Linked DNA regions of Homo sapiens. The protein of the gene in region 1 purifies or fractionates together with the protein of each later gene. This does not show direct contact. Each region holds a gene or a part of one and is shown in the gene's direction. Other genes may lie near its edges. The genes, in order: RETREG3, RMND1, ATP9A and CD63.

Region 1 (6,386 bases):
ACTGGCAGACTTGGGCAGATCTGTTCCACACTTTGTGTCCAAGCCCTAAGGACCAATAGCAGCGCTACAGTTGGGAATGTTTTTTGCAGCCCCTTCTCCATTTTGTCACTGTTTCCCATGCCTCCTCACAGTTGTCACTGTCATGATGTGGCCCCTTGCTGTGTACCACCGACTGTGGGATCGAGCATATGTGCGGCTGAAGCCAGCTCTGCAGCGGCTAGACTTCAGTGTCCGTGGCTACATGATGTCCAAGCAGAGAGAGAGACAATGTAAGTGTCATGGTGTCATTCTTTCCACTTACGCAATTTGGGGCGAAAAGGAGAAGCCCATAGGTCTGACATACTGGGTGGGTCCTCAAAAGTGGAAGTCGGGGGTAGTTGGTGGGGGTGAGGATTGATAGGTAAAAATGATATTCTGTTCTAGGGAAACCTGTGCAGGCTTGCCAGTTTTTATCATTTGTAATCCTAGGCTCCCGTTTTAAACCTATCTGATAAAAGCTCTTTCAAGTTGAATAAAAGCTAGACAGTGAAGATAAATTCCTAGTATTTGTGGTTTGTTTTTTTTTTTTTTTTTTTTTTGAGACAGGGTCTCATTCTGTTTCCCAGGCTGGAGTGCAGTGGCATGATCATGGCTCACTGCACCCTTGACCTCCCAGGCTCAAGTGATCCTTCTACTCAGCCCCGCCAAACCCTTCAGTAGCTGGGACTACAGGCATGTGTCACCACATCTATCTGATTTTTAAATTTTTTTGTAGAGATGGGGTCTCATGTTGCCCAGGCTGATCCTGAACTCCTGGGCTCAAGCGATCCTCCTGCCTTGGCGTTCCAAAGTGTTGGGATTACAGGTGTGAGCCACCGTGCTGAGCCCAGAGCAGATCCTTTCAACTCCTAAGCCTGGTCTCTTCACTAGTAAAAGCTGCCTCCCAAAGGTGATTAAAAACTGCTGCCTCAGAGGTTGTAAGTGTACTAGCCTGAGATCCATGCAACACAATGATGGTAGTACAAACTTTTCCCTCCCTTGTGTGGTCTTGTCAGGTTTTGTGTTTTATGGAGGCCTGGCCTTCAAAGAGCCCTGCACTTGGTCACCAAGGCCCAAGTCCCCTTGGGGCAGCCAGTTGAATAATACCAGTCCTCAAAAGTCTGATTTAACAAGGTGTGCATCTCCTTTTGCCCTCTCTTTGATCATGTCCACTTAACACCTTGACATTAGGTCTGCCTTTAGCCATCCAGAGAGTTGTTGACAAAGCCTGGTATTTGATCATCTGACCAGAATAGAAATGTGTGCCAGGCCGGGCGCAGTGGCTCACACTTGTAATCCCAGCACTTTTGGAGGCTGAGGTGGGCGGATCACCTTAGGTCAGGAGTTCGAGACCAGCTTGACCAATATGATGAAACCCCGTCTCTACTAAAAATACAAATATTAGCCAGGTGTGATGGTGAGCACCTGTAATCTCAGCTACTCAGGAGGCTGAGACAGGAGTATTGCTTGAATCCAAGAGGCAGAGGTTGCAGTGAGCCGAGATCGCGCCATTGCACTCCAGCCTGGGCAACAAGAACAAAACTCCATCTCAAAAGAAAAAAGAAATATGTAGGGTCTGGTGGAGAGGATGTTGGAAGCTGAGATATTTTCTCCAGTGTTTTCAACTCACCTTGCATTTAGGCTCAGCAGCTCAGCCTTCTGTTATTATTATGTAGGCTTAGAGCCAGATTCAGAGAGGCTCTTTGTTTTGTGTTCTGATTTTATGTCTTTAAAGTCCAAAGGGGATTTTACGCTGGGAGAAGGTATCAAGCAAGACTTTGTGCTCTTCCCACAGTACGCCGCAGAGCTCTCCACCCAGAACGAGCCATGGACAACCACAGTGACAGCGAAGAGGAGCTTGCTGCCTTCTGTCCTCAGGTATCTTGAGTGTGGGAGCTGCTTCACTGTCCAGTTTTCTTTAGCTACCTTTTAACCATCCGACAGCTCACATTTAGGCCATAACCAGGTTTGAGGCCTTAGACTCCCCTTGTTCCCAAGACAAGGAGAGAAGTGAGACTTTGTTCCTAGATCTCAATTTTTTTCTTTATCATATCATTCCTGTAATCAACCTAGGTCTCAATTAGAGCCTGATGCCCAGCACCGCTCTTCCGTATCTCTTTTTACCCTACCATTATGGAAGAACTTCTGGAGCTAGTATGATCATCTTTTAAACAGCCCAGTTCACCCTTGGGTCTGTGCAGTATGTGTATCCTCCTACCACTTTGAAAAATTATCTCTGGATCAATTATTTGCCTTAAAGTAAGTGGGTAATTGACTCCCCCAAGACTGCTTTTCTTCCTGTGCTTAAGAGGTTATGAATGAGTGTTTTCTTTGGGAGAGCAGCCTAAAAGGGGTCAAGATTTTTTTTGTTGTTGTTACTTTCACATGTATTGATTAAAAAAAAAATAAAGGGGAGAGGGAGTTTTCAACGGGAAGTTACCATCTATCCCTGGTTACATTGATTTGATGGCCTTCGGATAACTAATGCTAGCTGATTAGTAAAGCTGTACCTGGTGACTACACCTGGTTCCTGATGGCATTATCTCACATTTGTTGGTCTTTTCCTAAGCTGGACGATTCTACTGTTGCCAGGGAATTGGCCATCACAGACTCTGAGCACTCAGACGCTGAAGTCTCCTGTACAGACAATGGCACATTCAATCTTTCAAGGGGCCAAACACCTCTAACGGAAGGCTCTGAAGGTGAGGGGAGCCTTTGACCTCAGTTGATAATGGCTCTGACTGTTGCCTCTTAGCTTCCCTGAACAGAGGGGATACTGGTGCTTGCCCCTCTCCTGTTTTCTGAGCTATGGATCAGGCGGCAGAGCAGCCTGAGTGCTGTGGCTACAGCCAGGATGGCACTGCTGCCCTTCTTGAAGACTTTAGTCCCTTAGTAGCCTCAGGCACTAGCCTCACAGGGGACATAGAAGAGAGGGGGAATTGTGTAGAGATCACAGCCACCTATAAGTGGAGGGGAAAGGTATACCAGTCCCATGGGTTTATTTCGCCCTGAGAAAGCCAGGGTGGGAAAAATCTGGTCATGTGGGGCTGGGGCACAGGAGGGCCAGGTAGGTGCCATGACTCAGACACTTCTGTATTCCACCAGACCTAGATGGTCACAGTGATCCAGAGGAATCCTTTGCCAGAGACCTTCCAGACTTCCCTTCCATTAATATGGATCCTGCTGGCCTGGATGATGAGGACGACACTAGCATTGGCATGCCCAGCTTGATGTACCGTTCTCCGCCAGGGGCTGAGGAGCCCCAGGCCCCACCTGCCAGCCGGGACGAGGCTGCGCTGCCGGAGCTCCTGCTTGGTGCTCTTCCTGTAGGATCCAACCTCACCAGCAACCTTGCCAGCCTGGTCTCCCAGGGTATGATTCAGCTGGCCTTGTCAGGGGCCTCCCAACCAGGCCCTTCTGGAGCACCTGCCCAGAGAGCAACGAGAGGCTTCCTCCGGTCCCCCAGTTCAGACCTGGACACTGATGCTGAGGGGGATGACTTTGAACTTCTGGACCAGTCGGAGCTGAGTCAGCTGGACCCTGCCAGTTCTAGGAGCCACTGAGGCAGAGACTCCTTTTGGGAGTCACTGTGGTTTAGGTTTTTTTCTCCCCATCCCACTTAAGGTGATGGGGCAAGGGAAGAACTCAGCTCCCCTCCCCTGAATTATATTTGTATGCTGGGTGGCCTGGCTGATGCTCAGAGGCCTCCTTAGAGAGGACACTCACTCCCCTCCCACCAGCTGGATGCCCATTTCTGAGCTCAGTCACTGAAGTGAGAGTGTGCTCCCCCAAGGGAGGCTTCTCTCCATCAGGATGGTACTTTGGGGGAACAAAATAGTCAGGGATATTGGTTCCCCTTTGAGGAGGTGCTGCTGTTTGCTTTTAGGTATGAGTGCTCAGGGGCCCTCACTGAAAGAGCCCATGCCTGCCTTCCTCCTTTCATCGCCTCTCTAGAGCCCCCAAAGTCAGGCAGCAGCTGGAGTAGTTACATTGTCATCATCTTTTTTTTTGAGACAGTTTCGCTCTGTTGCCCAGGCTGGAGTGCAGTGGTGTGATCTTGGCTTTCTGCAACGTCTGCCTTCCAGGTTGAAGAGGTTCTCCTGCCTCAGCCTCCTTAGTAGTGGGATTACAGGTGCCCGCTACTATGCCCGGCTAATTTTTCTTTTGGTATTTTTAGTAGAAATGGGGTTTCACCATGTTGGCCAGGCTGGTCTCAAACTCCTGACCTCAAGTGAGCTGACTGCCTTGGCCTCCCAGAGTGCTGGGATTAGTCGTCATCTTTTGTTAAACCAGGATTTGATTTTTTTCTTTTCTTTTCTTTTCTTTTTTTTTTTTTTGAGACAGAGTCTCTCTCTGTTGCCCAGGCTGGAGTGCAGTGGCACAATCTCGGCTCACTGCAGCCTCCGCCTGCCGGGTCAAGCGATTCTCCTACCTCAGCCTCCTCAGTAGCTGAGATTACAGGCATGCACCACCATGCCCGGCTAATTTTTTTGTGTTTTTAGTAGAGATGGGGTTTCACCGTGCTGGCCAGGCTGGTCTAGAACTCCTGACTGCAAATGATCAGCCCGCCTCAGCCACCCAAAGTGTTGGGATTACAGGTGTGAGCCACTGTGCCCAGCGTGATTTTTTTTTTTTTTTAAAGCAAACTTGTCCTTTGGTTTTGCAGAACAGGCCTGCTCCCTCTCATCTAGCCCATCATTTCTTGGGGCCTGAACCCCAGTGGTCCAAAGTATTGCTTGTGAAATTTAAAAAATGTGAATATGATGTGGGGATGGGCCTCTTCTACATTACCTTGGCCCAGGGGGATCAGCTGGCTGGGAGGATTAGTGAGCACCTCTGTATTTTGAGGTCTGAGTCTTCTGGAGCTGTGTAGTTAATCTTCGGTTTCTGATAACCCCTGGGTCCATCTGGCCATCAGCCTCAGCAGTGAGCAAAGCAATACCATACTCATTTCTATGTTCCTGTTCCTTCCTCTGCTCCTCCTTTGGAGAAGCAATAATTCATGGGGGATGATACAGTAGCACTTTACAAATGGCTCCATGTCATTCATCCCAGGGGCCATAATCTCTTGCACCACCTATTCTTACTTCCTGTTCAGCTCCTTTACAGCTTTTATTTTCAACTGCTTCCCAACTTGGTGGGGCCTCCTTTAAGGATGAGCCAATAGTAAGAATGTGGCTGTAATCAGCAGAGACCCCTCTGAGGGGTATCTGTTCTGCAGCCCCTAGTGAAATCATGTGATGTGAGACAGAAACCTAAACATGGTACTTGATTCTAAACCTGTGCCAGTCTATAGCCTCTGCCTCCCCAAGCAGAGCTCAAGCCAAACGCTTCTGTCCTCTTTCCTTCTGCATTAACCCTTTGCTGATCCTCAGGGGCCACTCCCCCAACACCCCTGTACTTGGGTGAGGGATGTTGGACAGAGCCTGTTTTCATGTACTGCAGGTGGGGGTGTGCTGACATGTTTGCTCTTGGTTGATGGAGAAGGTACAGAGGCCAGGGAGTGAAAATGGTTGACAGAAGAGGGAAGAGTTAGGTGTCTCATAGTCACTCATAGTGGGGTGGTCAGGGGTAATGGCATCTCCCCACTTTAGGCTTCTCAAACAGACTTTTGACACCTCTCAAGTTCAGAGCTCTGATGTGGAAAGACAGGAGGTGTGGGGAAGGAGGGGGATTTCGTGTGTTTGCATGAGTGTGCGCTTCAGGCCTTGGGAGTTGGCAAGAGGGAGGGAAGGAAGGAGAGCAAAATCTTCGGAAGGTGTTTCTTGTACCTGAGGGATCCTGCCCTGAATCTCCATAGTCTCCACTGTGAACTGAGGAGGGGAGGGGTGTGCTGGGGAATAAATCTTGTATGAGAACAATCTTTAAGAGACTGATGCTGAATGGTGTCCTACCCTTGATAGGTCTTCTCTTGTAAATCTGAGTTCTGATTAATTTGAAGTGATAGCCTTAAAAGAGGAAGCCCAGGTATGAGGGACCCACCAGCCCACCCCTATTTTTACTTCGTGATGGCCAGAACATCACCATAGTATGAGGCTACTTTCCTTCTTGTGAGAGCCCCACCATCAGTATAACTGGCACTCTTGGCTAGTATTTAGCCTGTATTTCCTTCATTTCTAATTTCTTTTTTTTTCCTGAGACGGAGTCTTGGTCTGTCGCCCAGGCTGGAGTGCAGTGGTGCGATCTCTCACTGCAAGCTCCGCCTCCCGGGTTCACGCCATTCTCCTGCCTCAGCCTCCTGAGTAGCTTGGACTACAGGCGCCCACCAGCACGCCTGGCTAATTTTTTGTATTTTTAGTAGAGATGGGGTTTCACAGTGTTAGCCAGGATGGTCTCGATCTCCTGACCTCGTGATCCGCCCGCCCTGG
Region 2 (7,026 bases), on another chromosome or scaffold:
GCCTCGGCCTCCCAAAATGCTGGGGTTACAGGCGTGAGCCACCGCGCCAGGCTTTTTTTTTTTTTTTTTTTTTTTTTTTGAGACAGAGTCTCGCTTTGTTGCTCATTCTGGAGTGCAGTGGCGCAATCTCCGCCTCCCAGATTCAAGCCATTCTCGTGCCTCAGCCTCCCAAGTAACTGGGATTATAGGCCCATGCCACCATGCCCGGCTGATTTTTGTATTTTTAGTAGACACGGGGTTTCGCCGTGTTGGCCAGGCTGGTCTGGAACTCCTGACCCCAAGTGATCCCTCCCAAAGTGCTGAGATTACAGGCGTGAGCCGCCATGCCTGGTTGGAGGGCTTTGGCTTTTATTAAGTGAACCGTGAAGCCACAGCTAGATTTCGCGTTGAGATTCAACTTCAAAGGATCACTTTGGTTGCTGTGTTGAGAAGAAACTGTAGGGGGCCCAAAACAGAATCAGGAAAACTGGTTAAGAAGCTATTATAATAATCCATGGGAAGGATAGCAGTTTGGATCAGGTAGTATTATTACTGATGATGAGCAGTGGTCCCTAGAAGGCCCTTGGGATTTACTGAGAAGTTGGATATGGAGAATAAAGAGTCAAGCTGGACCCCACGTTTTTGGCTTAGCAGTTATAAAGATACTTATTACTGCTCATGAATGGGAAAGACTGGGAAGAAAGGGATGCAAGGGATTCTAGGGGTATAAGGGAGAGGTTAGAATGGTAGACCATGGAGTGTAAACTGGATATGGAGGAAGTGAAGTCATGGGGAGTGAGAGACAGTGAAAAGGTGGTTGGATCATTGACTTGTGGGTCCTGTTGGGGTTGAAGAATTATTGGAATTGGGTAATAGAAGGAGTGAGATGCAAAGATAGGAGGTGGTGCTTAGAGAGTAAAATGGATGAAACTGAGATGAGGAGGTCCGATGTATTGATAATGACAATAGGGCCCTGTCTGATAGAAAAACAGTGTAAGGCACAAATGTAATCTTAGGCTTTCTAGAAGGTGCAGTGATAAAAATGGGCTGGGTCCGGTGGCTCACGCCTGTAATCCCAACACTTTAGGAGGCCAAGGCAGGTGGATCACCTGAGGTCAGGATTTCAAGACCAGCCTGGCCAACATAATGAAACCCCGTCTCTACTAAAAATACAAAAAAATTAACTAGGCATGGTGGCAGACACCTGTAATCCCAGCTACTCGGGAGGCTGAGGCAGGAGAATCGCTTGAACCGGGGAGGCGGAGGTTGCAGTGAGCTGAGGTGGCACCACTGCACTCCAGCCTGAGTGACAGAGCGAGACTCCCATCTCAAAAAAAAAAAAAAAAAAAAGAATTTACTCAAAGAGAATAAAAAGAATCCAGGACTGTAGACAAACTTCTAAAATATTTTATAGTTTCTTCAAAATTAAGTGGTTCAACTGGCATGGCATAGTACTAATTAAAGGTGAACTACAGTAGCCAATTGGACTAGAATGAAGCACAGAATGCGAGCTTTTGAAGGGATTTTGGAAGCAGCAGGTTCTACCTCCTAAATATCACTGTGAATCATCTTTGTCCTTATCCTGAAGAGAGGTAGTAAATACAAGGTAGTGGGTAAGAGTGTTGACTTTGGAATTGGGAAAGCCTGGGTTTTATTTTAGTTACATCTCTGCAGCTTCTTAACGGTGAGCACTTAGCCTCTTTAAACCTCAGTTTCCTAATCAGTGAAATGGGATCATTATGAGGTGAAGCCGAGCACTTAGCATGTAGAAAGCGCTCAGAGTGATGTCAGAGTCTGTCTTGTTTCCTCCTACATATCATCACCAAAAATTTGTTTCATGAACATGCATTTGACCGTGTGACTCTGAGTTAAAAGCTCAGCTTTCTCCCCACCTGTAGAAACTTTTTAGGATGACTTTATATATCCTTTGGTGATCTGGCCATCGGCTCTTTTGGTCCTTACCTCCTGCAGCTCACTCCTACCTCCCCGAGATGGGGAGATGAATAGGACTCCATGCCTGGGGTGTTTAACTTGCTGATCCTTCTGCCCTTTCAAGACTCAGTTCAAATGTCACCTCTGTGACAATGCCACACTCTTCACATGCTCCTTTCTCTGGACTAGAGCAATTTGTGCATCTCGTTCATTTTCCTCTGCTAGACTTTGAATTCTGAGATCATTGATTCATCTATCTCTAGCACCTAACATATTATTTTTAAAAAAAGAATTATTGATTACTACGGTCTAACTTTTTTTTTTTTTTGAGACAGAGTCTCATTCTGTCGCCCAGGCTGGAGTGCAGTGGGGCAATCCTGGCTCACTGCAACCTCTCCCTCCCTGGTTTGAACGATTCTATATCTCAGCCACCTGAGTAGCTGGGATTAAAGCCACTATGCTTGGCTAATTTTTTTTTGTATTTTTAGTAGAGATGGGGTTTTGCCATGTTGGCCAGGCTGGTTTTGAACTCCTGGCCTCAAGTGATCCCCCCAGCCTTTAGCCTCCCAGAGTGCTGGGATTACAGGCGTGAGCCACCATGTGTGGCCTACTATAGGCTAACTTTAAAATAACACATTTCATACTGTAAATAAGGGGGAAATTCTGTTTACCTTGTCTGGAATGTTCATGTGTGTATCTGACATGCCTCGCACTCCCATGCCCAGCCCCAAGCTGAAAAGCACCTTCGCCTTCTAGAATCAGCTTAGATCTTTCTGGGAACCTTTCCTGATTTTTTTTTTTTTTTTCCTGAGACAGAAAAAGGGCTGGAATGCAGTGGTACAATCATGACTCACTGCAGCCTCAGTCTTCTGGGCTCAAGTGATCCTCCCACCTCAGCCTGTGAGTAGCTGGGACTACAGGCATGAGCTGCCATCACACCCAGCTAATTTTTAAATTTTTGTCATTTTTGTAGAGATGAGGTTTCACCATGTTGCCTCAGCTGGTCTGGAACTCTTGGACTCAAGCGATCCACCTGCCTCAGCCTCCCAGTGTGCTGGGATTACAAGTGTGAGCTACAGTGCCTGGCCAGCACAGATTTTTATATACTTGATATGCTAATGAAGTAAATGAAGTGGTCCCATCACTATTTTTTTTAAGGTTCTTGTTATGTCAGTAGCTTTATAATCTTGTAATCTTCCAGGAAGAAGGCCAAATGTTGCTAAAGGCAAAGTGGCAGAAACACTGTACTTATATTTTTAACCTTGTTCTTTTACTAGAATTAACTTAGAATGTATCTGTTTTACAAATTTTTCTAACAGAAATATGCCTGCTACCTAGGGAAATATTATATATGTTTTAAACATTAATTTAAAAACTTGAACTTTGAATTCCTTTTCTTTTAGCTTGGGATGTGGTAATGCCAGCCACACTCCTCAGAGCCGTGGCCAGATCTCATCATATATTATCAAAAGCACATCAGTGCCGAAGAATCGGTCATCTAATGTTAAAACCACTTAAGGAATTTGAAAATACAACATGCAGCACACTGACAATACGTCAAAGCTTGGATTTGTTCCTTCCTGATAAAACAGCTAGTGGTTTGAATAAGTCTCAGATCCTGGAAATGAACCAAAAAAAGTCAGATACCAGCATGCTGTCTCCATTAAATGCTGCTCGTTGCCAAGATGAAAAGGCACACCTTCCAACCATGAAATCCTTTGGTACTCACAGGAGAGTGACCCACAAACCAAATCTGTTGGGTTCTAAATGGTTTATAAAAATATTAAAGAGGCATTTCTCATCTGTATCAACGGAAACATTTGTTCCAAAACAAGACTTCCCACAGGTGAAGAGACCACTAAAAGCATCCAGGACCAGACAGCCATCCAGGACCAACCTTCCAGTTCTGTCTGTGAACGAGGTAAAGTAGGGGTGGCCGTGGCTCTCGTGCTTAGTGATCATTGCTCATGCTAAACCAGTGTGCGTTGCACCCCAGCCTTACCGCCAACGTAAGAGAACTAGCAGTCACTCAGACTTCTTCATCAAGGTCTTTGAAGCCTAATAAATATCCAAAGGGATTCAGAATCTTAATTTTTAACAATTAATGATACATATAAAAACAAAATACAGGTGATAACACATGAAAATAGAGTTTATAAAAGATTTGGTTATTGGTCTAAGGAAACTGAAAAAGAGGACCAATATTAAGTCCAGTCTAAGAATGGGACTGTAAAAAAAAATAAAATAAAAAAAAACAAACTAGAAATTCTTCATCAAGTTAAAAAAAATTGTAACTCTGCAGACAGATAAGCCTTTATTAGGCTGTGGCAGTTGCATGGGGCGGTGAAATGACACGGTAGGGTGGACTCCAAAAGCAGCAGGAGAGGAGGGCCCAGCTTTTTTATCCTCTTAAGGTTTAAGGGGGTATTTTTTATTCATCCTTAAGGGGTTTCTGGGAATTTTTCTGCTACAATTTGCATTTCTCCTTCAGTAACAACTTAAGGGTCAAGATCAAGCCCTTGATAACCTTTGTATCTTGCATAATACCTAGAACTGTACCTTGTACTTAAATGTTTATAAGAGGATCTTTAATGCCGATAGTCATCAACTTTAAAGATATTTTAAACTTGATGAAGACTTCTGAATCTATCAGAAAACAGGTTAGAATGTCTGTCTTCAAGTCTTGATTCTGAAAAGTAGCCCCTGAGCCTGTTTCATTTTGGCTGTGTTTTTATTACTGTGCAGCTGACACCCCTTGGAAAGGTATACATACATACCTTTACTCATCCTCTGATTCTGAATCTAGCAATGAATGAATGGTTTTTGTGTTGGATTCTGGAATGCTTTCAATTCTTGTGTGGTTACTCTGAACTCAGGACGTGAAGGATGAAGTGTTGTGCAGCTACTGTTTCCCCTTTCCTTTTGCTGGAGCTTTGGGGTAACCTGGGAAATTCAGTATTTAAGTGTCCGAGATGGCATTAAGTGTAAAAACCTGAATTCATGGCAGCTCCAAAAAAGAGAAAGCTCAACTCACTTTGTTCATTTGTAACGTCTAGCAGCACAGTGCATCAGGTTTCTTAGGAAGAAGCTGATAGGTCAGAGATGTCCCTAGGCTATTTCTTTGGGCCATCCTTAGACTTGGAAGCAATTTTCCTAAATACCGTATCTATTTTTCTTTAGATTTTTTTTTCTACTTCCTTCCAGGAAAGAATTTGAAGTAGATTTTCAACATTCAACATAGTTTCAAATGAGATAATAAATACTTTCACATATTAGAGCAAATAGTTGACATGAACAGAGAAATGTTATGAAGTACCTGAAATGAATAATCTAGTTGAACATTTTGTTTTGAGAAGCGCAGTAATTAAAAGAGGAACTCCTCCTGGGATTTAGTGTTTGTTGTTTATTGTTGTGGGAGAGGGCAGAGTAAAAACATAAAAATATCTTCAGAGAAATAACTTTTTCCAGCACTGAAATTAAGGAGTTAGTTATTTCATGGATTCTGTTATAGGAGACATTATGTAACATGATAGACAATGACTTCAGTTGGAGTTTGGCAAGAGCAAGTCGCATGCTGTCTTTCTGAAAGCACAGGGAAATAATAGAAAATCAGATGTTTCTGGCTGGGCGGTGGCTCACAGCTGTAATCCCAACACTTTGGGAGGCCCAGGCAGGCGATTACTTGAGGTCAGGAGTTCGAGACCAGCCTAGCCAATATGGTGAAACCCTGTCTCTACAAATATACAAAAATTAGCCAGGCGTAGTGGTGCACACCTGTAATCCCAGCGGCTCGGGAGGCTGAGGCAGGAGAATCTCTTGAACTCGGGAGGTGGAGGTTGCAGTGAGCTGAGATCATGCCACTGCACTCCAGCCTGGGTGACAGAGTGAGACTCTGTCTCAAAAAAAGAGAAGAAAATCATGTTTCTAAAGTGGTCTGAGATAATGTAATTTTGGAACATCATTTTTTGAAGATTTTACTTTTCATAGAGAAAGCAGTCTTGGCATGACTAGGTAATATGTCCCCAGGACCAAAGACTGACTTTCCTCTGCCCGAAATTGAGGGCCACTCCATTTTTATACGGCCATCATAGTGGTAAACCCTTTATACCACTTTATACCATCAAAATGGTAAACCCTTTATACCATTCTTGACTGAGACAAGGAAAAGACTCTGCTTTGTGTCAGAAAGCATGTGGACTTTATTTTGTTCCCATAGTTGCACCCAGCTCATCTTTTCAGCTCTGCAGAACAGCGTGCATCTGGAGTTGGCTGAATGAGGTTTCAGTCACCCTGTCTGTTGGAATTAAATCTTTACCTGGTCTCATTTTCAGAGATCATAATCTGAGATACTCAACCCACATCCCTTTGGCTTACAATTCCTAAAAGCAATAGTGGATCCAGTGGCTTATGCCTATAATTTCAGTGCTTTGGGAGGCTGACACAGAAAGACCACTTGAGGCCAGGAGTTGAAGACCAGCCTGGCAACATAGCAAGACTCCCATTTCTAAAAGACTTGGAAAAAAAAAAAAAAAAAAGCCGGGCTTGCTGGTGCGCAGCTGTAGTCCTAGCTACTCAAGAGGCTGAGGTGGGAGGATCGCTTGAGCTCCAGGGTTCCAGGCTGCAGTGAGTCGTGACTGCACCTCGCTCCGTCCAGCCTGGGCGACAGAGTGAGGCCCTGTCACTAAACAAACAAGAAAACAATAATAGCAGTGCTTCTTGTTAATGTCCAGTCTTTGAAGAGAACAGCAGAGGATGGGAACGGCAGGTCTGAGTGGCATGGAGCCCGACACCAGGGAGAATGTTTTCAGGCTAATAGCACTGTGTTACAGAATCACTGGTGGACTGTTAACCATTTTTTTGAAAAATGAAATAGAATAGAAAATAACAGAATACATTGCTCATGATAAACGTAAATACTGGTTTGTGAAGCTTTTGTGGCAATTGGTGTGTAAGCATATATGTGTATATGTACTATGTTTAATGATTTATAGGTTGTAGTCAGAAAAACTTACAGGATAAAGCGTGATCTTGGTAACGTAAAATGTATCTGTGTTTTTATAGCTTTAATCTCCAATCAGTATGTTACAGGAGAAAAGGCATTTTTCCTTAGTATGA
Region 3 (7,026 bases), on another chromosome or scaffold:
GAGCCACTGTGTCTGGCCAATCTATTTCTTAAACAGTGACATGGATTTGGATTCAAATTGTGTATCAGGGTTGCTGTGCATTTGCGTAAATGCTCTTGTATATAATCTGCATTTTCAGGAGTAGCAACATCAAGGTGGAATCCTGAAGTTTAGAAACTCTTGAGAAGCACAGAGAGATGGAGGAGCTTCCTGAAATAGAACTAGGGGCTGGGGGATGGCAGCGTGAGGGCTAAAGTGGGTGGGTGGTTAAAGGAAGAAAAAAGTAATATGTAATGGGTCAGGCTGTCTGCTGGACACTTGAGATAAATAGGGCTGTTTTAATCCTTACAACAACCATGTGAGTTTTTGGAGTTAATTCTCCCATTTTAGGGGCCAGATGTGGTGGTTCAAGCCTGTAATCCCAGCACTTTGGGAGGCCAAGGTGGGCGGATCACTCGAGGTCAGGAGTTCGAGACCAGCCTGGCCAACATGGTGAAACCCTGTCTCTACTAAAAATACAAAAATTAGCCGGGTGTGGTGGTGGTGCCTGTAATTCCAGCTACTGGGGAGGCTGAGGCAGGAGAATTGCTTGAACCCAGGATGTGGAGGTTGCGGTGAGTCAGGATTGTACCACTGCACTCCAGCCTGGGTGAAGAAGCAAGACTCCATCTCAAAAAAAAAAATTCTCCCATTTTATTGACAGGGAAACAAAGATTCACTGATATTAATGTGTTCGTGGTCTTGGAGGTTGTGAGAGGAGGCAGTTTTGAACCGGATCCACCCATTTCACCTAATGGTTCTAGGCAATAAAGCTGTGGAATGGTTGGAAGATTTGTGGTTAAAAAAACCAAAAACGATGCCACATGTCATAGGGGACAGAATGCAGTTATTTCTGGGGTCACTCAGCGAATGTTGCGAAGACGTGCAGCTTATTTTTGGAGGAATCTCCTGGCTTCAAAGTTCTTTTCTCTCTTGAGAAAGTTACCACATCCTGATGTTGAGAAAACTTTTGAAATGGTGTAGTTAGGAAACAAGGCATTTCACCTCCATTGCTGGAAACCATTTTATGACATCATGCCCTTTGCTTATGGCTGAATGGAGCTCCTCTTGTGGTGAAATGGCAGGGATTATTTGTTAGGAGCCAGGACGCAGGAGTCCATTGAGGAGCTGGGTTCACACCCAGGCTCTGCTGCTTACTAGCTGTGTGATCTTGGGAAAATAACTTTACCTCTCTGAGTCTCAGTTGTTTCATCTGTAAAATGGGAATATCAATAATTATGTATCTCATAGTTTTTTAGTCCATGTAAAGTTTAGGAGAATAAGTGCTCAGTATGCCTTAGGTGTTTACTAGGGCTAATGGTAATCCTTAGGTGTTTGCATGAGGTTTACCGTTGGGGTCTACAGTGTGCTTCTTTGAGAGGAGGGGCCTTTTATGAGAAATTTAGAAATATGAATTTCACTGCTTTTTCCTGATCAAATTTAGGAAAATGAATAACTATGTAGAGCATTCTGTCCAGGTATGTCGAGGCCCTGGTGTGATGTTGTGGCAAGGATGGGAGCTTAGGTACCAGGTGGCCCAAGACTTTGCCTCATTGTAACAATCTACGTTTTGTGGGTGGCCACACTGGATGAGGATGCTTTGATGCTTGATATATTTGGATTTGGGGGACTAGGAAGTTTTGAATATGAATCAGATTGAGAAAGAAGAACTGAATAGATATGTTGTCTACCACAATGTTTTAAACAGCTTTATTGAAGTATAATTTATATAGCATACATCTATTGAAAGTATGTAAACTGGCCAGGTGCGGTGGCTCATTCCTGTAATCCCAGCACTTTGGGAGGCCAAGGTGGGCGGATCAGGAGGTCAGGAGATCCAGACCATCCTGGCTAACACAAGTGAAACCCCATCTCTACTAAAAATACAAAAAATTAGCTGGGTGTGGTGGCGGGCACTTGTAGTCCCAGCTACTCAGGAGGCTGAGGCAGGAGAATGGCGTGAACCCAGGAGGCAGAGCTGGCAGTGAGCCGAGATCGCGCCACTGCACTGTAGCCTGGGCGACACAGCGAGACTCCATCTCAAAAAAAAAAAAAAAAGTATGTAAACCATTGATTAAAAAAAAACCAGGTGTATGGAGTTATGCAACCATCACTCCGGCATGGGTTTTGAATGTTTCCATCACCTCCGAAAGTCTCCTCCAGCCCATCTGCAATTCATCCCTGCCCTTGCCCCAGTCCCAGGCAACCAGTGATCCGCTTTCTGATTCCATAGGTTTGCCCTTTCTGGAAATTGTCTATCAATGGAATCACACCACGTGTTGCCTTTTGTGTCTGGCTGCTTTAATTTAGCATGAAGTTTTTGAAGTTTCTTTTTATTGTGTAATAGAATTTCAGTTGGGCTTGGTGGCTCACACCTGTAATCCCAGCACTTTGGGAGGCCCAGGCAGGAGGATTGCTTGAGCCCTGGAGTTCAAGAGCAGCCTGGGCAACATAGTGAAACCCTGTCTCTACAAAAAATAAATAATAATAATAAAAAAAGCCAGGCATGGTGGCTTGAGCCTGTGGTCCTTGCTACTTGGGAGGCTGAGGTAGGAGGAGTGCTTGAGCCCAGGAAGCGTAGGTGGCGGTAAACCCTGATCATACCGCTGCACTCCAGCCTCGGCAACAGAGTGAGACCCTGTCTCAAAAAAAAAAAAAAAAAAAAAAGCCATTTGTGGATATATCACCTTAAATCTTTTTGTTTGTTTGTTTTTAGACAGGGTCTCGCTCTTGTCACCCAGGCTGGAGTGCAGTGGCATGATCTCTACTCACTGCAACCTCCACCTCCCGGGTTCAAGCGATTCTCATGCATCGGCCTCCTGCGTAGCTGGGATTACAGGCTCCCGCCGCCACGCCCAGCTAATTTTTTTTTTTTTTTTGAGACAGAGTCTTGCTCTGTCACTAGGCTGGAGTGCAGTGGTGTGATCTTGGCTCACTGCAACCTCTGCCTCCCGGTTCAAGCAGTTCTCCTGCCCCAGCCTCCGGAGTAGCTGGGACTACAGGCGCATGCCACCACGCCCAGCTAATTGTATTTTTAGTAGAGATGGGGTTTCACCGTGTTGACCGAGATGGTCTCGATCTCTTGACCTCATGATCCGCTCACCTTGGCCTCCCTAAGTGCTGGGATTACAGGCGTGAGCCACCATGCCTGGCCTAATTTTTGTATTTTTGGTAGAGACGGGGCTTCACCGTATTGGCCAAGCTGGCCTTGAACTCCTGACCTCAAGTTATCTGCCCACCTTGGCCTCCCAAAATGCTGAGATTACAGGTGTGAGCCACTGACCCTGGCCCGGCCCAGTGTTATCACAGGGTCCTTAAAAGCGAAAGACAGGCAGGAGAGTGAGTGTCAGCATAAGAGAAAGATTGGGAGAGGCTGCACTGCTGGCTTGAAGAGGGAAGAAGGGGCCATGAGCCAAGGAATGCGGGGGACTCTAGAAGTTGGAAGAGTTAAGGAAACGGACTCGGTTGGAGCCTCCAGAAGGAACACGGCTCTGCTGACACCTTCCTTGATTTTAGTCCCATGAGGCCCATTTTGGACTTCGGACCTAACTGTAGGGTAATAAACTTGCATTGTTTTAAGCCACTCAAGTTGTGCTAATTTTTTTTTTTTTTTGAGGCGGAGTCTCGCTCTGTCGCCCAGGCTGGAGTGCAGTGGCGCAACCTTGGCTCACTGCAAGCTCCGCCTTCCGGGTTCGCGCCATTCTCCTGTCTCAGCCTCCCGAGTAGCTGGGACTACAGGCGCCTGTCACCACGCTCGGCTAATTTTTTGTATTTTATTAGAGACGGGGTTTCACCGTGTTAGCCAGGATGGTCTGGATCTCCTGACCTCGTGATCTGCCCGCCTTGGCCTCCCAAAGTGCTGGGATTACAGCCGTGAGCCACGGCGCCCGGCCAAAGTTGTGCTAATTTGTTACAACAATGAGGAGAAGCTGTCACACACCGATGTGTGCTGCAGACCCTGGGAACGGATTGTCGTGCTCCTCTTTCCATCCCACAAAGGGGACTGGAATCTAGACAGGAAGCCCGCCACCTGGGTGGAGGCATCAGAGGCATTTCAGAGGTCCTACATTTTGCCTGAGAGCATAGAGCTTATGTCAGCATGTTTATGTGACTCATTATCTGACGGTGGAGGAAAAAGATGAATATTTATTTAGGACCTGCAGTGTTTTGGCTCTGAACTCATGTTTCCTCTTTCATGCTGCACAATGGCCCTTTGATGTTGGTAATTTTTTTTATTCTTGCTTTACTGATAAGGAAACAAAAATGCCCTTTCTCTTTGATGTGATGGAGGTGGTGTTAGGTAGGACTCTCATTACTCTCAGGACTTACATTCTTGTTTTTTATTTTGAGACGGAGTCTCACTCTCACTCAGGCTGGAGTGCAGTGGCGCAGTCTCGGCTCACTGCAACCTCTGCCTCCTGGGTTTAAGCAATTCTCTGCTTCAGCCTCCCAAGTAGCTGGGACTACTACAGGCCTGCGCCACCACCACGCCCAGCTAATTTTTGTATTTTTAGTAGAGACAGGGTTTCACCATGTTGACCAGGATGGTCTTGATCTCTTGACTTTGTGATCCGCCTGCCTCGGCCTCCCAAAGTGTTGCGATTACAGGCGTGAGCCACTGCACCTGGCATTTTTTTTTTTTTTTTTGAGACGGAGTCTTGCTCTGTCGCCCAGGCTGGAGTGCAGTGGCGTGATCTTGGCTCACTGCAACCTCCACCTCCCAGTTCAAGTGATTCTCCTGCCTCAGCCTCCCAAGTAGCTGGGATTACACATGCCTACCAGTATGCCCGGCTAATTTTTGTAGTTTTAGTAGAGACGGGGTTTCGCCATGTTGGCCAGGCTAGTCTCGAACTCCTGACCTCAGGTGATCCGCCTGCCTTGGCCTCCCAAAGTGCTGGGATTACAGATGTGAGCCACCGTGCCCTGCCCAGTACTTACATTCTTTATTTCAGTCGTTGTGAGCACTGAATTTTCGAATATGGAACCATTGCTCTTAGGGGAAATATGGGGTTAGGTTCCTGAGAGGCTCTGGTCACATTATTTTTGTTGACTGATCAATGAAGAACCTCGTTTTAGGTGTGTTTCTGTTTTTTAAAAACCGCATATTTAATGTACGTTATGGATTCATTAACATCGAACTCACAGGCAACAACTCTGTAACTCACGCCTGGAGGCAGCTTATCTGACACGTGTATTTTTTCCACGTGGCACATCCCAGCCTTCCTGTGCTTAGAGATACTAGTTCTTCTGCACTGTGCTGAGGGGCCATTTTAAACTGCAAAACCATCAGGGAAAAGCACAAAAATGCACAAATCGTGGCAGTAAGAGACCACAAAAATGACTCCTATTTGTAGTGTGAGAGCTGCAATGAGAAGCCTTGTGTCACCTCAGCTGGGAATGTGTGTGTCTGGGGGCGGGGCAGGGAGGAGCAACTCACCATTTTGGCTACACTGCACGCATCCATTAGTGACTGTGAAGGGGCTGCAGCTGTTGATTTGGGATTACAAGTTTGAGGGATTTGGTGAATTTGCAAATACAGAAATTATAAATTATGAGGATCAATTGTATATAGTGGGGTGGGTGTGTGTTTCAATGTCCTTCCTTTGACAAAGTGGAGATAGTATTAGATATGTGGCATGTAGGGGTGTGTGTACATCTTATTTTATTTTTTAATTTTATTTATTATTATTATTATTTTTGTGACAGAATCTTGCTCTTGTCGCCCAGGATGGAGTGTAGTGGTGCGATCTCGGCTCACTGCAACCTCTGCCTCTGAGGTTCAAGCGATTCTCTTGCCTCAGCCTCCTGAGTACATGGGATTACAGGCACCCGCCACCACGCCTAGCTAATTTTTGTGGTTTTAGTAGAGACAGAGTTTTGCCCTGTTGGCCATGCTGGTTTCGAACTCCTGACCTCAGGTGATCCACCCACCTCGGCCTCCCAAAGTGCTGGGATCACAGGCATGAGCCACCGCACCCGGCCGTGTGTGTACATTTTAACATCCTTTCTTTGATGTGGTGGAGGGAGTATTAGATACCAAGCATATAGGGGTATGTTTTGAGGGAGGGGATTGTGCTGGTGGGTGAAACCCAGAGACACCCCCCTCCTCAGCCACCGACCTTCCCCTCTCTGGGCTGGAGGAGAGAGTTGCACCAACAGCTCTTTGCCCCCCTGGGATGAGAACAGTGGAGCTTGGCAGCGGCCCATGGGGCTGTGCTCTCTGTCCTCTGCCAGCGCCCAGCTGCACTTGCGCCATCCCCTTCAGTTACAGAGGTCCTCCCTTGCTCTGCCTTGTGCTGACCAAAACCAGACTAGCTGCTCTCTGCCCACGTGGAGACCAGAAGATGTGTTGTTGCAAACCCACAGAGGGACTCTGAAGGATGGAGTGTGGACATGGGTGCCGTGCCTGCCGGGCTTCCTTGCAGACGGGCTCTTTCTTTTCTTTTTTGAGACAGAGTCTCCTTCTGTTGCCCAGGCTGGAGTGCAGTGGTATGATCTCGGCTCACTGGAACCTCCGCCTCCCGAGTTCAAGCGATTCTCCTTCCTCAGCCTCCTGAGTAGCTGGGATTACAGGTGCAGGCCACCATGGCTGGCTAATTTTTGTATTTTTAGTAGAGACGGGGTTTCACCATGTTCTGCAGGCTGGTCTCGAACTCTTGACCTCATGATCCGCCCGCCTTGGCCTTCCAAAGTGCTGGGATTACAAGCATAAGCCACTGCGCCCAGCCCAAAAGGGCTCTTTCTACCTACTGTACAGCTGGCTGGCGAGAGGAGGTCCCTGTAGTCCAGTCCGCAAGGAGATGGGGGCACCCTTTGACCTTGACCTCTGTCTTGCATGCAATAAGTTGGAAAAAGGAGGCAAGGCATGGAACCGGCCATCTTTGGACTTTTGTCCCTTACTTCTCAGAACAGAATGTTCTTTTAGTGTCTTTACCCAGATGGAAATGTTGAAAGTCAGTGATAAGGGCTGGCTGTATTTTATGACTGCCTTTGAAGGGGTGGAGGGGT
Region 4 (6,913 bases), on another chromosome or scaffold:
ATTTTTCAAAAATTAAAGAAAATGTTTTTTAAACTGAAGCCCAAGAAGCATTGATCCTTCATGTATTTTTGCCTCCTCTTCCCCCATCCTTCCCCATGCCTCCCACCCTCCTCTATGTCTCTCACTTTCCGGTTTTTCCTCACCCCTCTCCCAACTCTCCTCAACTGTTCTTTTCCCTTGATTCTGGATCCCTTCTTTCTTCCTCACCTTCCTCATATCCCCTCACCCTCCTCATATCCCCTCACCCTTTCCTGTGCTTAGATGCAGGCTACAAGCTGCTGTGCATGGCACTGGGTCTGGCTGATGCCTACATGCTCTCAGAAGGCTGCAGGTTTGCTTGAGACATCTGTGGCCCCCATGCTGTGTCGCTGGGCCTAGGTGGAGGCGTGGTGAAGCTGGAGGGAAAGCTGGCTTTGCTTGGTGTGGAGGGACAAGGGTCCCCGCCTCAGCACACCTACCACCAACTGGTGCCAGGCAACCAAGAGGCAGCAGCCTGGGCCAGCCAGGACGGCTTGGTGGCATATCTGGATGTCAGGCACTTGGAACAGGTGCTGGGGGATCTGAAGGATGTGAAGGGCCAGGTCTGAGATCAGCCACTTCCCACTAAGAGGCCCCTCTATCCTGCACCCCAGCAAACACATGGAGCTCTGTGTCAACTTTCCAGGCTGTAGAAGTGGGCCATTCTTTGTGTGTATGTGTGTAGTAAAATATATATAACATAAAATTCAGGGACATTGAGTACATACACATTGTGCAACCATCAGCACCATCCATCTCCACAACATTTTCATCTTTCTTTCTTTTTCTTTGAGACAGAGTCTCGCTCTGTTGCCCAGGCTGGAGTGCAATGGCACAATATCGGCTCTACTAAAAATACAAAATTATCCAGGCATGGTGGCGCATGCCTGTAATCCCGGCTACTCAGGAGGCTGAGGCAGGAGAATCTCTTGAACCTGGGAGGCAGAGGTTGTGGTGAGTTGTGCCACTGCACTCCAGCCTGGGCAACAAGAGCAAAACTCCATCTCAAAAACAAAAACAAAAACAAAAAACCTAGATGTTTATGGTTAAGGAAACAAATTAATAATAATAAAAAAGATAATATCGATTCTTACAAAATACAGTAATTAAGAAAATTAATCCTTTATCACAAACTTTTGTAGCAGAGCACATCTCTCCATATATACAAGCATTATACCGAGGGTGAATGTGTTCCTCCTCTTACTTTTTTTTTTTGAGACAGAGTTTTGCCGGGCACAGTGGCTCACGCCTGTAATCCCAGCACTTTGGAAGGCTGAGGGGGCGGATCACGAGGTCAATAGATGGAGACCATCCTGGCCAATATGGTGAAACCCCATCTCTACTAAAAACACAAAAATTAGCTGGGCGTAGTGGTGCGTGCCTGTAGTCCCAGCTACTTGGGAGGCTGAGGCAGGAGAATCACTTGAACACGGGAGGCGGAGGTTGCAGTGAGCCAAGATGGCACCACTGCACTCCACCCTGGTGACAGAGCGAGACTCCGTCTCAAAAAAAAAAAAAAAAAAAAGAGAGACGGAGTTTCACTCTTGTTGCCCAGGATGGCATGCAGCAACACGATCTCTGCTCACTGCAACCTCTGCCTCCTGGGTTCAAGTGATTCTCCTGCCTCAGCCTCCTGAGTAGCTGGGACTACAGGCACACATCATTGTGCCCAGCTACTTTTTGTATTTTTAGTAGAGACGGGGTTTCACCGTGTTGGCCAGGCTGGTCTCGAACTCCTGACCTCAGGTGATCCACCTGCCTAGGCCTCCCAAAATGCTGGGATTACAGGTGTGGTGAGCCACTGCGCCTAGCCCCTCCTCTTACTTTGGGGAACATCCTACTCTGTCTATGGAGCAGCTGTTGTTTCACCACTTTACTTTCTTAATAAACTTGCTTATACTTTGCACTGCGACTCGCCCTGAATCTTTCTTGCATGAGATCCAAGAACCCTCTCTTGTGGTCTGGATTGGGACCCCTTTCCTGTAACAAATGCATTGGCTGATAGGAGAATAAAGAAAAAAAAAGAGGAAAAACTAGAGTAACTTCTCTACATAATCATATTATATGACCGTTTTGTTAACCATGATAACAGTTAACAAAATAATTTTCTTATGTCTAATTCTCAGTCCATGTCTGTATGTCCCAAAATGTCTTTCACAGCTGGTTTGTTCAACCATTCAATGAAGGACCAAACATTGCAGTTGGTTGTTATGTATCTAGTCTCTCAATCTTGATCTTCAGACCACCTTCAGCCCATCTCACCACATCCGTCCCAAGCCCTTTGAGCCAGCCAACCCCAACCTGCCATGTACTTTACAAAATGCTCCTTTTTTTTCCACAGTCGACTGCTTCTCTGTCCCTGGAGCTCTCCCCTTTATTCTCCAAGGTCACCTTGAGCACATCCTTCTGCTCCGTGAAATCCATTCTCCTCTCCCTTTCCCTCCCTCTGAGCTTAACCAGCTGCCACCGCAGGCTTCTGCCTTTCTTCACAGTGTGGCCAGAACTCGGTTCTGCCTGCTAGCAGAGGGCAGGGCCGCTGTCTTCCTCTCCTTGCAGCCCCCAAGCCTAGCACATGCCTGGCATCTAGTGGCAGCACAATAAGGAACCTGATGAATACTCCTTTCTTCTGCTCTCCGCTCCTCCTCCACAGCCTGCCAGCCATGGTCAGGAAGAGCAAGATCCGGAATGGGCTTGGTGTGTCCCGCGGGAAGGCCGTGATCCTGGAAGATGCTTCTCAGCCCAGCCCGGATCTCCTTCCTTTAGCTCTAGAGACTTCTTTCATTCTTTGTGTACACACATACACTAAGACTCAGGAAGTGGTTCTTGAGGCAGGACCTTAAGAGCCCAAGGAGTGGGGCCGAGGCTGGAGGTGTGGGGGTGTGACGGCCGGTCCTACTCTCCGGCCTGTTCAGATCAGCTCCTTCTGGGGACCACCCCTGGCACACAAGGGAGGGAGGCAGCTTGATCCCCCTAGCCCGCTTCCAGCCCTCACCTGGCTTTGTCTTCTGGGATAAGACGGGGAAATCCAGAGGATGTAAGCCTCTCCTGCCTTCGTGTCTTCCCCCAAGCCCTCGCTATCACAGACGGATGCAGGAGCTGTCTGGGAGGCTGGAAGCACAGACCTTGTCAATCCTCCCCCAGAGGGCGGGACCCGACGCGGACGTGTCTTGATTGACTGGGTAGCGTGGCTTCGGGGAAGGGCTTCCTCCCCTTTTCTCAGACTAGGATCCCTGGAAAATGGAGAAGCTGTGCTAATAGAGGGGGGCCAGAAATCCCCACTCTAGAATGCTGTAGAATGTTGGGAGACACCCAGGATGTGAGCCAGGGACTTTCTGGAAGTGTTTGTTCTGGCCCCACCCGACCCCAGGCAGTCCCCAGCTGTCTGCACAGTCGGATGGGGAGGGGGCTTGCACAGAGTTGGAGCCAGAGGAGAGAGCTGGCTCATCCCCTACGGTAGGATGGGGAAACCTCACAGACCACATTGTCACCCGGCCTCAGCTCTCCGCCCCGGCGCTCAGAGGGTAACTCTCACCCACCTCGTCCGCTTCTCTGAACCAGAGTGACCCAGGCTGCGCTCCGCCCCGCTCTCCTACCCCGAGTTGGCACGGAGGTATAGCGCCAGAGGGGGGCCCCAGGCGCCCCGAGGTCTTGCCCTTGCGGCTTTCCCTTTGCGGGGGTGGGCGCCTTCTTCCGGGTAGGGGCCACGTGGCCCTGGCCGGGCGGGGGGCTCGGCCCACCCCGCGCCGGGCCCAGTGACTCAGGCCGCAGCTGTTACCGCGTCACATGAGGGAGGCCGGCGGCCACTCGGCGGGGGAGGGGACCGTGGCTGGAGCCCGGGGCGGGGCCGCGCGGCAGGCGGGGCGGGAGCCGGGGGGCGCAGCTAGAGAGCCCCGGAGCCGCGGCGGGAGAGGAACGCGCAGCCAGCCTTGGGAAGCCCAGGTGAGGCCGCGGGGACCCGGCGGACTTCGGCGCGGGCTGGGAGAGACCACCCGCAGTCCCTTCCTCCAGGGCTCGCCCCAGGCCCGCGGAGACTCGTCCGGCGCTCTCCAGCCGCCCTGGAGCAACTTTGCTTCGAAGTTCCCTGGGCCCGGGCAGGGTGTGGCGGGGGTGCTGGCTGCACTTTTTTTTTTTTTGGTGGGCGGGGAGGTCAGAGCCCAGGGGAAAGGGGCTGGGGCGGGGGTCGGGGTTGGGCTGAAGACCGTTTCTCCAGGCTGGGTGTTGGGTGGGGAAAGGGTGTTTGACGCCCGGAGACTGGCGGGCCGAGGGTCGGCGTCAGGCTCAAGCCCCTGCCGGCGCCCTTGGATCTGTCCTGGGCCCCAGAGGCGGCGGGGCGGGGTCCGGGCTTCGCGGCCGTCGCCCCCACCCCTCTCCTGCGGGTAAAGAGGGGGCTGGGAGACGTGGATCCGACCGCGGGTTTCCGGGTGGGAGGGGCCGGGAATCGGGGCCGTGAAGGGAAGCCCTCGAGGGCCGGCCGGGAGCCCGGAAACCGAGGTCCCCCTTCGGCCAGTTTTAATCCCCCCGCCCTCCCCTCTGCCCCAGGCCCGGCAGCCATGGCGGTGGAAGGAGGAATGAAATGTGTGAAGTTCTTGCTCTACGTCCTCCTGCTGGCCTTTTGCGTGAGTGGCGAGGGGTCCTGGGGGGCGCGCCGGCAGGGTGCGGGGAGACCTGGCTCCACAGTGGTGAGGGCTGAGGGAATGAGAATTAAGGCAGCTGGAGACCAGATGTGGAAAGAAAGCCAGGGAAAGACAGCGCAGCCACTCCCTCCTCCAGTTTTCCTGGACACCTGAGGCTTGTTTCCACCGAGAATGGCCATCCTGGGTGTGCAGCAACCCCTACCCCCATCCCTCCTGGCCCTTCCTGTCTGGTGACCCAACCACTTGTGATATGGGGCAGTGGGGCAACCAGCCAACCGCCTGATGCTATCGCCATGGGGCTTCCCTTCGCTCTCCCTTCTCCCCTCTCTCCCTCCCCAACCCTCTCATCCCTGTCCAGCCCCTCTCCCCCTTTCCCTCCTCCCAGCGCTTGGGGGTGAGGAAGGGCTCTGCCCACTTCAATTTGCTCCTGCCCTGGGCTCCTGGCTTGAGAGGCTACTGTTTGTCTAGGGAGGGACACATCACTCTTGCTCCCTTTTCCTCTTCCCTTCTCCTGGCCTAACTGGCCAGAGGAACCTTAGTCACAGCTGATGCGCGCGTGGGATGTGCACTGGAGGATAGTGAGGGGGCAGTTCTGGGAGAGAATTGAGCTGGGAGCCCTGGAGGCCTGTAGAAAGCATTATTCTAGGTCAGAAATACGTGTCTTGAGGTCAAGGCTTTCTGGGAGGTTTTTGAATTTGGTCATGTCCCTGATTAAAGAGCCGGGAGGGGATCAGGGGAGGTAGGGGCAGGCAAGGATGGGTCATCCCCCTACCCCACAGCCAAAGAAATTCCCTAGAGGTGTGAGAATCTCTCTTCCGGATGGGGTCAAGTCTGTGTCCTAGGTGTACCCCCTGCCCTCCACCATGGAGGGCCACTGTGTTGTGGATATGGCCTAATCCTCACCTGATTTTCTCTTAGGCCTGTGCAGTGGGACTGATTGCCGTGGGTGTCGGGGCACAGCTTGTCCTGAGTCAGACCATAATCCAGGGGGCTACCCCTGGCTCTCTGTTGCCAGTGGTCATCATCGCAGTGGGTGTCTTCCTCTTCCTGGTGGCTTTTGTGGGCTGCTGCGGGGCCTGCAAGGAGAACTATTGTCTTATGATCACGGTGAGTTGGGGGCGGGACCAACATGGGCGGTCTGGGACTGCCAGAGCAGCTTGGTTCGGGCTCAGGAAGGTGGGTGAGGTGGGTGGGTGAGGAAGACCTTTGTGAGTGTCCAGGGACCGGCTGTGCCAAAACGGGCCCCTGTAATGCATAGACTCCAAACTTGACTTCTGTCCTTTGCTCCTGCAGTTTGCCATCTTTCTGTCTCTTATCATGTTGGTGGAGGTGGCCGCAGCCATTGCTGGCTATGTGTTTAGAGATAAGGTAAGCAGGGAATAATGGGAAGGGCCTGCCTCAGCCGGGTCTGGGACCCTGGTGCTTGAATTCTGACTGCAACAGTGCTCCTCCGTACTCTCAGGTGATGTCAGAGTTTAATAACAACTTCCGGCAGCAGATGGAGAATTACCCGAAAAACAACCACACTGCTTCGATCCTGGACAGGATGCAGGCAGATGTGAGTGGGGTTGCTGGGAGCAGGGGTGGTGGGAATAGAGAATTCTCATCTCCAAGGCTGGGTGTGGTGACTCACGCCTGTAATCTCAGCACTTTTGAAGGCCGAGGTGGGCAGATCACCTGAGGTCAGAAGTTCAAGACTAGCCTGGCCAACGTGGTGAAACCCTGTCTCTACTAAAAATACAAAAATTAGCCAGGTGTGGTGGTGAGTGCCTGTAATCCCACCTACTCAGGAGGGTGAGGCAGGAGAATCGCTTGAACCCGGGAGGCGGAGGTTGCAGTGAGCCGAGATTGAGCCACCGCTGGGCACTTGTCTGGGCAACAGAGCAAGTCTCTGTCTCAAAAAAAAAAAAAAAAAAAAAAAAAGAATTCTCATCTCCATATTGAAGGTGAAGGTTCACTTAACAACCTTCTTCTCCATATTTCTTCCCTCCCCCAGTTTAAGTGCTGTGGGGCTGCTAACTACACAGATTGGGAGAAAATCCCTTCCATGTCGAAGAACCGAGTCCCCGACTCCTGCTGCATTAATGTTACTGTGGGCTGTGGGATTAATTTCAACGAGAAGGCGATCCATAAGGAGGTAGGGAGGAGACTGTGTATGGGACTTGGGAAACCTGGGAAATGTTTTAGAATGCAAGAGACCCAGGATGGAGGTGGACAGGGTCAGGGATGGGGAGGGGATCTGGAAATGCTAAGGGTGGGGT

The links.
Region 2: the proteins of RETREG3 (region 1) and RMND1 purify together in Homo sapiens (affinity purification with mass spectrometry; 4 studies listed by BioGRID and IntAct, with this or other methods). This does not show direct contact.
Region 3: the proteins of RETREG3 (region 1) and ATP9A purify together in Homo sapiens (affinity purification with mass spectrometry; 4 studies listed by BioGRID and IntAct, with this or other methods). This does not show direct contact.
Region 4: the proteins of RETREG3 (region 1) and CD63 purify together in Homo sapiens (affinity purification with mass spectrometry; 4 studies listed by BioGRID and IntAct, with this or other methods). This does not show direct contact.

The regions. Positions count from the first base shown.
Region 1 is NC_000017.11:42,579,008-42,585,393, reverse strand, and holds the end of RETREG3 (reticulophagy regulator 3), read left to right. Parts: intron 1-131; coding exon 132-269; intron 270-1,813; coding exon 1,814-1,896; intron 1,897-2,587; coding exon 2,588-2,720; intron 2,721-3,123; coding exon 3,124-3,581; 3' UTR 3,582-5,879; downstream 5,880-6,386. UniProt on the Homo sapiens protein: Endoplasmic reticulum (ER)-anchored autophagy regulator which exists in an inactive state under basal conditions but is activated following cellular stress.
Region 2 is NC_000006.12:151,442,114-151,449,139, reverse strand, and holds part of RMND1 (required for meiotic nuclear division protein 1 homolog), read left to right. Parts: intron 1-3,314; 5' UTR 3,315-3,328; coding exon 3,329-3,832; intron 3,833-7,026. UniProt on the Homo sapiens protein: Required for mitochondrial translation, possibly by coordinating the assembly or maintenance of the mitochondrial ribosome.
Region 3 is NC_000020.11:51,758,365-51,765,390, reverse strand, and holds part of ATP9A (probable phospholipid-transporting ATPase IIA), read left to right. Parts: intron 1-7,026. UniProt on the Homo sapiens protein: Plays a role in regulating membrane trafficking of cargo proteins, namely endosome to plasma membrane recycling, probably acting through RAB5 and RAB11 activation. Also involved in endosome to trans-Golgi network retrograde transport.
Region 4 is NC_000012.12:55,725,997-55,732,909, reverse strand, and holds the start of CD63 (CD63 antigen), read left to right. Parts: upstream 1-3,900; 5' UTR 3,901-3,957; exon of another isoform or gene 3,958-4,114; intron 4,115-4,203; exon of another isoform or gene 4,204-4,394; intron 4,395-4,555; exon of another isoform or gene 4,556-4,557; 5' UTR 4,558-4,568; coding exon 4,569-4,634; intron 4,635-5,009; exon of another isoform or gene 5,010-5,046; intron 5,047-5,070; exon of another isoform or gene 5,071-5,298; intron 5,299-5,570; coding exon 5,571-5,759; intron 5,760-5,945; coding exon 5,946-6,020; intron 6,021-6,114; coding exon 6,115-6,210; intron 6,211-6,648; coding exon 6,649-6,789; intron 6,790-6,913. UniProt on the Homo sapiens protein: Functions as a cell surface receptor for TIMP1 and plays a role in the activation of cellular signaling cascades. Plays a role in the activation of ITGB1 and integrin signaling, leading to the activation of AKT, FAK/PTK2 and MAP kinases.